2 separate regions of the Homo sapiens genome follow, and region 2 is linked to region 1. The links come from fine-mapping of genetic effects on gene expression. A gene starts in region 1. The other region holds a variant in brackets. All regions are shown on one strand. Distances are between the middles of the regions. Region 1 holds the start of RDX (radixin). Region 2 overlaps RDX (radixin).

Region 1 (5,000 bases):
TTTGACTCTAGCTCTTTAGAGGATCTAAAGTGACCTTGATGGACAGTGGAAGAAATCACAACATGGAATTCCTTGAGTAAAAATTTATCGACTTAAAAAAAAAATCCAATTCTGCTTTTGGGAACAGTGAACCAATAAACAAAAGACAACGCGTTCCCCATCCCGGAGACTAATGAGACTCAGCAAGGGAGGGAAACAACAGCAAAGTCTGTCATTTCTTACCAACAAAAGGAAAGTAATCAATTTGACTTTCAGTTAATTAATCACAATTTCAAAAAAAAAAACAAAAGGACAGACTCAACGTATTTTCCCTACACCCAAATTAATTACATCTATTCTACAGCTACTTCTGAGACTCTCCTACATACTCTTCCATGTGTGGGGATACAGGAGTGAACAAAACATTGTATGTGATTCCTAAGGTCAAGAACTCAACGTTTTTTCAATGCCACAATCAAATTCTGTCTCATTTAAATAAAACTGTAAAGAATGCCAATGTCTATTCATTCCTTGCTAATAATATACCAACTGTTTATTAAATTCCATCATATATAAAAAAGCGATTAAGCAAAGAAAGTCACTGCAATCGTCTTTACAGCATACGATTAACTTCAAAAGGAGTGTTTTACATGTTGCTGTATTTGAAGGAAAGTATTATTAATCTCTGGAAGATAAAGCACACTGGGGAAAGCAAAGAAATTCTGAAAATAAAAAACTGCAATCCTGAATATTAGTCTCCTTTCTCAAATCCAGTGATGCTGTTTTGGCAAATGGATCAAGCCATTATTTATCCAGCAACATGAACGGGGTAATTGTTCCTTCTTAGCTCCATCAGTCATATAAAAGAGTATTTAGTGTTCTAAAAAAAAAAAAAAAAAAAGAAGTATGCTCCTTAAACAATAGATTACAATGTCTATGTCAAAGTACTCGTTTATCAAATAAACCCTTATTATCTTAGACTTTTATATTTACATCCTGCCAGTCTTAGTGCCACAAGAATGCCATCGAGTTCCTCAGCAACGTGTCTTCCACCAAAATCTCAAATGTATTTTAAAATATATTTTTATGAAGTTGACTTTTAACACATTTCCAACCTAGTAACTACTCTTTAAGGAAAAAAAAAAACCACCAAATATTGGGAATGTCTGAAGAAACATGACATCTGTCTAGGAAGTGATGTAGTCTGTTTAAACTGAAAAAAAAAAAAAAACAAAAATGCACTGCCCCCTTTCAAAGTTAGTCCGGGAATTGAGTTTAGAATCCTTTAAAGGAAAAGAGGGATATCATGTACTGAACTTGTCTGGTGGGGTCTGAGACACTAAAACTGAGCGGCCTCAAGGGCCCGAGAAAGTTACAGGGCTCCGAGAGCTGCAACAGCAGCAGGTAGAGCTGCGGCCGGGAACCGCGGCCCTGGCCTGGCGGGTGCGAGCGGCGGGAGCGACTGGCGCCCCAAAGCCTGTCATGCAACATCCCCTTTGCCACTGGGGCGGAACGCACGCTCTCTAGTAATTTAACACCCCTCCTTTCAAACTGGAGGCCGGGGAACAAGTTCTAATAAATGTAAAATCGAATTCTACCTACGCTGAATATCTGGATTTTCAAACAACCCTTGGGACCATGCCAGCCCGGGCCCGGGGCCCAGTCCAGGCAGCGGGAGCCCACCGTCCCCAGGGCGCTGGGGGTCCGACACCGGCGCTGAAGGCAGACTCCGCGCCCCGAGGAAAGGAGAATCCCGCGGCGGCGAAGGTCGACTTTGGCCCGGCCAGGCACGTTCGGGCCGCGGCTCAGCCACGACTCGGGCAGGGCCTCGCGGCCCCTACCAGCCCCGGGAGGAGCCTGGCCGGCCGGGCCGTTACCACAGTGGCGCCTCGGCCAGCTGGGCGCGAGCGGAGGCGCGCCAAGCCCTGGCGGCGGCGCCACGGCCGGGCAGCACGGGCCCCGCAACTTCGCGCCGCCACCTTAGCGTCTCCGGAGGAACCGGGAGCGGGGAGTGGGGGAAGGGAGGGCGCCGCGCCTTACCCGGAGAGCGGGCGGCTTCTGCCCGCCGGCGTGTGGCTGGGGCGCTGCGCGGCGGCGCGGCTGCGACAGGGAGGGAGAAGCGGTGGTGCGAGCGCTGGCCCGCGGGAGACGAGAGGCGCCGCCGCCACCGCAGACAGCTCCGCAATATGGCCGCTCGGCGCCTCCGCGGGAAAAGGCGGGGCTGCCCGGCGCCCCCCCGCCTCCCCCTGCCGGCCGGCCGTCCTCGCGCCGCGGACTGAGCGCCAACGCCGCCGCTGGGGGCCGCCCCCGCCCCGCCCCTCCCGCAGGCTCGCAGCCGCAGGCCTGGCTCCGGGCGTGGCCGGGGGTCGCGGTCTGGGGCCGGCCAACGCGAGGTGGGTGGCTGCGGGCTCGGGAGCGCCCAGGGAAATAGGGCGAATGCGCCGGAGGGTCGAGCCCTTCCAGAGAGCGCTGGGCTCCAGCTAAACCTGCGGTCGAGGGAAGCGGAGCCGCCCAGCCCAAAGCTCGGAGTGTGCCCGCCGCCTCCCCAACGAGTGGAAACTTGAAACTCCCGCTGGTGCCAGCAAACTCACTGAGGGCGTTGCCGTCGCCCCCAGAGGAGGAATTCTTCCCAGAGGGAGCCGGGGACCAAATGAAGCGTGAGACTTGGCTGTTAGGTTTGAAGATCCTGGACTGGGAAGGAGAAAAGGGCCTACCTGAGCGGAATTTAGATTTGCAACAAAGAACGTTTACATTATTTTGGCAGGTTTTAGCCAACTAGAAAAACTTAATTTTTCAGCGACAATTTTCAAACTTCACCAAAACCTCAATGGATAAGACCCCAAATCAGGAGTGCAAATTTTAATCCAAGCAAGGATGTGTGATAATTTTTTATTACCAACGACATGCTTTGGCAGTTGGAAGGAGTTGGTTAGCAAGAAAAAGTTGGAAGTAGGGCCCCAAAGAGCCGCCAAACCTACATAATTCTAGATTTAGAGAAAGTTAGGCATTCGATCTTAAGACTAAGTCTAGCCCACTCACTTTAGTTAGTGGCTGGGATGAGACAGGAAGCTCCTGACTTCTGGATCAGTCTTCTGTCATCTAATCCATGCTGAGTCCCCTCAGTATTGTCTGCTGGGATGATTCAGGGAGCAAAACTTGCTATGAGTATACAAACAGCAAGCGCACAAAATCAGATTCGCCTGGCTTGCCCTGTTTGCAATACTTTTTTTAGCTTATCTTTTGTGAACAAACTTTAGATTCAAATAACAAAACGCCTGAGTATACTTACTTTTATAGGACAAATAACTCCTATACTTCCTGCCTTAGCATTTACCTTAGGTGAGACAGTAGCTTTTCCAGGAAATATCTGCAAATCACTTTCACTAGCCTGCCTCTTCAGTGAGTTTCCACTATTGCCCTTTGAGACCTCTCCGAACAATTAAAAGCCCCCAAGAGACTCAAGGGTTAAACTCAAGGGCCTTTAGATAGCAAATTCCTCAAGGATGGGAACCAGGTGTGTGACTTGCGACCAAATAGGTTCTTGTGGTTCTTAGGGACCACCAAAAGATCACTCCTTACCTCTCCCTAGGGTGCAAGAATTATCCTGGTTATTGTTCAGCCTACCACATCAGGTTGCAGGCATAGTCAAAGTATTACGTAATACTTCCCATGAAGTAGGTAAGAAAAAAAAGTATTATGTAAATTCCTACATAGTACACTAATCAAATGAAATTATATAACACACTTTTGCAACTGAAAGTGAAGGATTCACTGTTGTTGGTCAGGTGCCAGACACTGGTGTGAAATTCTTTTACATGACTGTCTCTTTTAATGGTTACAAAAACCCTCTGGGATAAATACTATTATTGACCCTTTAAAAAAAATCGATGAATAAGACAGCTTAAAAAGAGGTAAGTAATTTCCCCAATGTAACAAAACTAGGAAGTGGCAGAGCAGTGACCAAACCCAAATATATGTTTGACTCCAAAAGCCTTGATTTTATCCTATCTTCTGCAACAGCAAACAGACCAAAAATTGCAACATTTTAGTTGGGTATCCTATTAGTAAATATTTAAGTGAAAGATAACAGTCAAGGCTGGTGAGATAAAAAGGGTACTCTCAGACATGGTGAGTGGGAGTGTAAACTGAAATAATCTCTTTATAAAGCTATTTGGCACTGTGATTCAACCCCTAAGAACTTTCATGGCAGGGCATGGTGGCTCATGCCTGTAATCCCCGCACTTCCTGGGAGGCTGAGGCGGGCAGAGCATGAGGTCAGGAGACCGAGACTATCCTGGCCAACATGGTGAAACCCCGTCTCTACTGAAAATACAAACCTCAGCTGGGTGTGGTGGCACACGCCTGTAATCCCAGCTACTTGGGAGGCTGAGGCAGGAGAATGACTTGAACCCGGGAGGCAGAGATTGCAGTGAGCCGAGATCATGCCACTGCACTTCAGCCTGGCAACAGAGCGAGACTCCCTCTCAAAAAAAAACAAAGCAAAAAAACAAAAAGAATGTTCATAACTGGCCAGTGCTGAAGCTCACACCAGTAATCCCAACACTTTGGGAGGCTGGGGCGGGAAGGTCGCTTGAGCCCAGGATTTTCAAGACCAGCCTGATCAAAATAGTGAAACCCCATCGCTACAAAAAAAATTATAAAAATTAGCCAGGCATGGTGGCATGTCTGTAGTCCTAGCTATTCAGGAGGCTGAAGAGTCAGAAGAATCCCTTGAGCCCAGGAATTTGAGGCTGCAGTGAGCTGTGATTGTCAAAGGCGTTGACCACAGAGTGACTCCATCTTGAATAGGGGCTGGGTAAAATAAGGCTTAGACCTGCTGGGCTGCATTCCCAGGAGGTTTGGCATTGTAAGTCACAGGATGAGATAGGAGGTCAGCACAAGATACAGGTCATAAAGACCTTGCTGATAAAACAAGTTGCAGTAAAGAAGCCAGCCAAAATCTACCAAAACCAAGATGGCAATGATGGTGATCTCTGGTCATCCTCACTGCTCATTTTATG
Region 2 (5,531 bases), 65 kb before region 1:
AGGGGCCATTCCAGTTCTTAAAACTCTAATTAGACATAAAGCAAAATATTATTTAAAATTCCATTTTCTGACAGGATCAGAGTAAAAAAATCACTATGTGTCCTTGAGAACAGAAATAATAAAGTGACAGTTAAATATTACTATCAACAAAAAAATCTAGCTTTTACTATTTTTATAGATTTATCACTTATTTAAGTTAAAAATTAGTAAGAAGACTTGAAAAAGGCAATTTCTAGATTTATAGTAACTGTTCTATAATACAGCTTCAAAATAAGAACATGTACTTACATAAATATACTTAGCATACAGTTCTTTAAAGAATGTTGAAATGTTAATAGTGAGATCAATCAATGACAAGAAACTGTATCTTCCTCAGGAAAAAGAAACTAACCACTATACAATAAAGGCAATGACTGGAAACCCTAAATTACGTTTTGTTGTCAACAAAGTCAATTTAATTTAATAATTTAACTTTTCCACAGAATTAATCACTATTACTTCCATACCAAAGAGGTATCGGGGAAAGAGTAGATCTATGAGGATTTAAAATTATTTCCTATCTACTTCTTACTTTTAAGTTGTGGTGATTCATGGCTGTGATAAAGATTGTAATTTTCAAGAAACATACAAAAAATCCATGTTAAATAACAACAGTGGACCTTGAAGGCATGAGCTTTTGTCACTTTATTGTTAACCAATGAATATTATCCAAAATTAGAGATGTAATTGTAACTTAATTGTACAACACAAAATTATGCTAATGGTAAAAGCCTACTGGGATTTACCAAATACTCATTAGTGTATTTTTACATTGACTATATGAACATGTGCTCGCGACTGCTAATAAGTTATAATTGGTTTAATCTCTAAGAAATCCATATTGCAAATGGTTCTTGTTTAGAAAAATTCACACAGCCTTAAAAATGGATTAAATCCATTTTAATCCTAATCTACAAATAGATCATAAACAGCAAAATATAACTGATAATTTTTCAATACTGTATCAAACTGATGTAGCTATGGTAGTGCACATAATTCAAAATGAGGAAAATTAACAAAAATCCAATGAAAGTTCAGGTTTTTATCTATTATGCAATTGCTTTAAAGTGAACATTTATGTCTCAAAACATGAATAGTAGGGTCCACCATCCATTCCTTTGATGTACTGCAAGTAGGAATATTCTCTTCCATAGGATTCTGAAGCATGTGCACAACCATGGTACAACAGTCACTTCAAGGTTAACCAGCTATGTTTTGTCCTACAAAGTTCAAAAAATATATTAAACGCAACCTTTCTTTTACATAATGTCTGCCCAGATTAATCCTTTTAAAGTCAGCAAAATCAAAAAAGCACAAGAGATATTTTCAGACACAACTTGAATCTACTGTGCATGAAAATGTTTAATAAAATGGCAATTTTAATAGATAAATGTAAATTTGACTGTGTAATACCAAATGGAAAGTAGCTGAACCACACAGAGAAAACAAGGCTTTACGTATCTCCAAATTTAGCTGTTTTACAATAAACAAAGTATTAGAACATGTGAATATTAGAACCTCCTTCTAACTGGAAAGATTTCTTCAGTAAGCTATAACCGAAATTAATATAAACTAAAATTATAATTTCTAAAATAAGAATTAACAAACCAAATTTAAGTATTTTTAGTCAGAGATTGAAACAAAATAAGCACAGTGATCTAGAAACCAAATATACTGATTATGTAACTATCGTATCAAGGTACAGACATTCTTCACATGCTACAAGGTTAGCATTTCTCTCTCTCATACACACACAGAGTACACACACACACACACACACACACACACACAGTCTCTCTCTCATTCTCTCTCTCTCTTGCTCAGCCATACAACACCCCTCCAGGATGATAGTATACCAGTGAGGAGCTTACAATTTTAATACAAATCAGAATCCCACAGTTTGACTCGACAAAAAGGCAGTTAAAAATTTAGCACTCTTAAGATATTCTGAAGGAAAATGAAATTTCGAAAGTATTTCTTGATGATCGAGGCTATGGTTATGAATTATAAAACATATACCTTACACACTCCATTGTGTTTGAACAACCAGTCATCACAGATGTAGTAGTGAGGTAGTATTGTTGTCCCCTCCTCGGGACTGATGTTTTTATATGCTGCCCTTCCA[GA/G]AAAGGTCCAGGTTTTAAAAAATAACATTAGTTACCAACAAATGTATATTTTCTTTTTTTAACTAATCATTTGTTTTTCTAAATCAGTCTATAAAAGAACAAAACTTTTAAAATCTTGCAGAGGCTGTTTCATCAGTAAACTCTCCTAGGGAGCTACTACTGCTGTCTAAACCTCTGTGAAATGGTAGGCAAAAAAAGCCATCAAAGGATCACAGGAGATAAAACACCAATCAGTGTAAGCTGTTAAAGATGACTGTGATTAAATAACCAAATATCAAATATCCAATAAGGTAATTAAATTTAGATTAAAAAAAAACTAAGCACCAGCTGTACATACATTATTAAATGTTCTAATCTCTTTCCTGATTCATAGCCATATTCTACATGATGATCAAAGACTGTCCACTGTGCTACCTACCATCATTTTAAACACTGCCTGATCTGTATGATGGTGGAATTATGGCTATGGACATGGCAGATAAGAGAAGGGCACACTGAGAAAATGTGAGTGAGAGAGAATGTGGAAATAGGTTAAATATGGAAAGGGCAAGGGAAACCCATTAAAATGTTCACCATTATCCTTTAAAATGTACACAGAACTGAAACCACACATACACATTTGTCAGACGTGATAATTAGTGTTAATCTTCAACAGAAAAAAAAAAGAAAAAGAAAAAAAATGTGAAAAGAGGCAATGGAACACCATTCTCCATTCCCTGGACCAAAAGAAAAAAGAAAACCAAGCATGATATCATACTGCCTTAATGTTGAAGAGCTCCCCTTAAATTTGTCTTTTAGCTAGCACAGTCAAACTGGTGTAAGTGCTTTGGCAAGGTGGGATGCATTCCATCATATCTGCAAAGGCCTGCTTTTCTCTGTTGGTGGTTCAGCTTATGAAGAACATATATGCAAAATAACAGCTCTCACATTGCTTCAAACTCATCGATACGCTGCTTTGTATTGCCTTGTCGAATCTGTCGCAGAGTCTTGTACTTATCACGGCCTGCTTTAACATTCTCAGCATGAAGAACATCATTTTGTGTTTTCTTGGTTTCATCTCTGGCTTGGGCTAATTCTGAACTTAATGCCTATTTAAAAAATAAAAAGTACAACTATTATTTTTTTCTTAGATTTAAAAAAATTTATGAAAATGGCTTTAAGATGCAAAAATACATATACCAAATCATTTCCACTGTGAAACCTTTTTCTTTAGGTATAAGTTTGTTTTAGTAATAGTGGTGGCAGTGGTAAGGGAGGAATACACATGGCCTTTCCACATTTATCAACCATGGTATTTTGTACATTATTCTAAATTTCCTTAACTTTCTAATCTAATACTTGAAATGGCTAAAAAGTTCAATGTAGCCATTACAGACTAATATTACTATGAGATTTAAAATCTATACCTCAAGGGAAGCCTTCTCCAAAAGTCTTAATACATTTATTGTAACTATCACCTCATTTTCTTTTAATATTTAAAGATTTTAACAATTAAAATATTAGATAACTTATTGGGAAAAAAGAAAGCTCATAATATTAAAATCCTCTACTTTGACCTAGTTATGTCCATGTAATATACTGACCTTTTGCCAATATAAAATCTCAACAAATAATTAAGATTATGTAATGTCTTAAACATAGTATATTAACTATCATTCTTTCCAATGTACATTTTATTTTATTTTATTTTTTTGAGACAGAGTCACTTACTATTGTCCAGGCTGAAGTGCAGTGGCATGATCTCGGCTCACTGCAACCTCCACCTCCCAGGTTCAAGCAATACCTCAGCCTCCCAAGTAACTGGGATTACAGGCTCATACCACCATACCCGGCTAATTTTTGTATTTTTGGTAGAGGCAGAGTTTCACCATGTTGGCCAGGCTGGTCTTGAACTCCTGGCCTCAGGCAGTCCACCTGCCTCGGCCTCCCAGAGTGCTGGGATTACAGGTGTGAGCCACTGCGCCTGGCCCTCAATGTACATATTACTGATCAAAAACTAAATTCACGTTTTTCAACATGACATTAGAATACTTTCTACCTTTTAAAATGGGTCAAGCTGTAATTAAATAACTCACTAGTTAAGGTCTGATTATACAAAGCTAACAGGTATTTGCTAATGGGTTCACACAACGGAAGAAATGAAATAACATGACTATAGGCCAAACACCCACAAACCAATCACAAGGGCAGCCAGTATTAAAACTTCTATATTCTTTTTAACTAAGTTTGTCTAAGATGGGGAAAATGCAAACTATATTTCAAATGCACATACAACTGCAAATTTTAAATACCTGAAGTTGCTTCTTAACACGCTCATTTTTCTGTGTTTCGGTTACACGTTCTTCCTCGCTTCTATGGTTCATTACCCCTTCATTTGATAATTCAGCACTAGCTTCAGCATTATTCTCATCGTGTTCATCATGTTCGTTTTCTGTTGGAGGAATGACTGGTGGTGGTGGAGGTGGAGGGGGGGCAGACATCACAGTTTTTAACTCTTCTTTGGTCTTTTCCAAGTCTTCCTGGGCTGCAAAAGCCTGAACATTAAAAATACGTTTATGAGCAACTTACTTCAAAAATTAATAATCAAAACAATCAAGTTATACTCCCTTTTTAATAGAAACTGTATTTCAAGGTAATGAAAATAGGCCCTATTTATGAAACCTCTATTTTCATAAAAGAATGTCAACAGGTAAAAGAGAAAATCAAAAACATTATTATGCAAACCCTATTAGAATTACTCTGTGAGCTTCAAAGTGACAGATTAAAAGAAAAACAAGCATACATGCAAAAAAAGAACTATTAATTCTGGCAAGGATTATCAATTGTTTGCTAAAACTGTTGTGCAAATAGTTGATGAGAAATAGATATTCATATAATGCCTAAGAATCTCACACCCAATAGATTTTATTTGAGCCACAAGGGGAAAATGTAACCGAATAACGGAGGAATGAGACTGTCGTTACTCAAATCCAATGATCACTAAAAAATACTAATGGTGAGTTAACTAGATATTAAGTGTCTTCTGATATGATACAACCTGAAATATCTAACATCACCAATTATTTGGGTGATCATATTATCTTGGTTTACCTGGAAAAGTCCTGTTACACTGTTGTCCTGGTGTAATTATGAACAATACCCCCTTTTTCTCAAAAGTACTCCAGTTTAGATGTTCAATTATATGGAAGTCTCACCTTTGATGCACTGTAGTCAAAACATTTAATTTGAATTCCCCAGGTTCTAGATCTAACTTCTGGTTCAAAGGAAATACTGGAGTTAAAGGATAAGGTCAATGACACAAGGAAGTAACTAAACAAATATAGGAGGTGAGACATTCTGTAGGTCCCTTCAATAAATCAAAATAAT

The links. PIP is the estimated chance that this variant, and not a neighbour inherited with it, causes the effect.
Region 2: its variant is fine-mapped to the expression of RDX in whole blood (TOPMed, PIP 0.98).

What each region holds. Positions count from the first base shown.
Region 1 is chr11:110,294,448-110,299,447 of GRCh38, forward strand. RDX (radixin) reads right to left here and starts at 2,167. Exons shown (of 14, transcript NM_002906.4): 1 at 2,020-2,167. RefSeq lists an enhancer at 1,264-2,136 and silencers at 1,350-1,409, 1,540-1,639, 1,650-1,699, 1,750-2,549.
Region 2 is chr11:110,228,781-110,234,311 of GRCh38, forward strand. It overlaps RDX (radixin), which reads right to left. Exons shown (of 14, transcript NM_002906.4): 13 at 4,457-4,699; 14 at 661-3,253. The coding sequence ends at 3,089. Among named protein-coding and RNA genes, the nearest start is that of RDX, 65 kb to the right of the region's middle. The variant GA/G (reference allele first, on the strand shown) is at 2,165.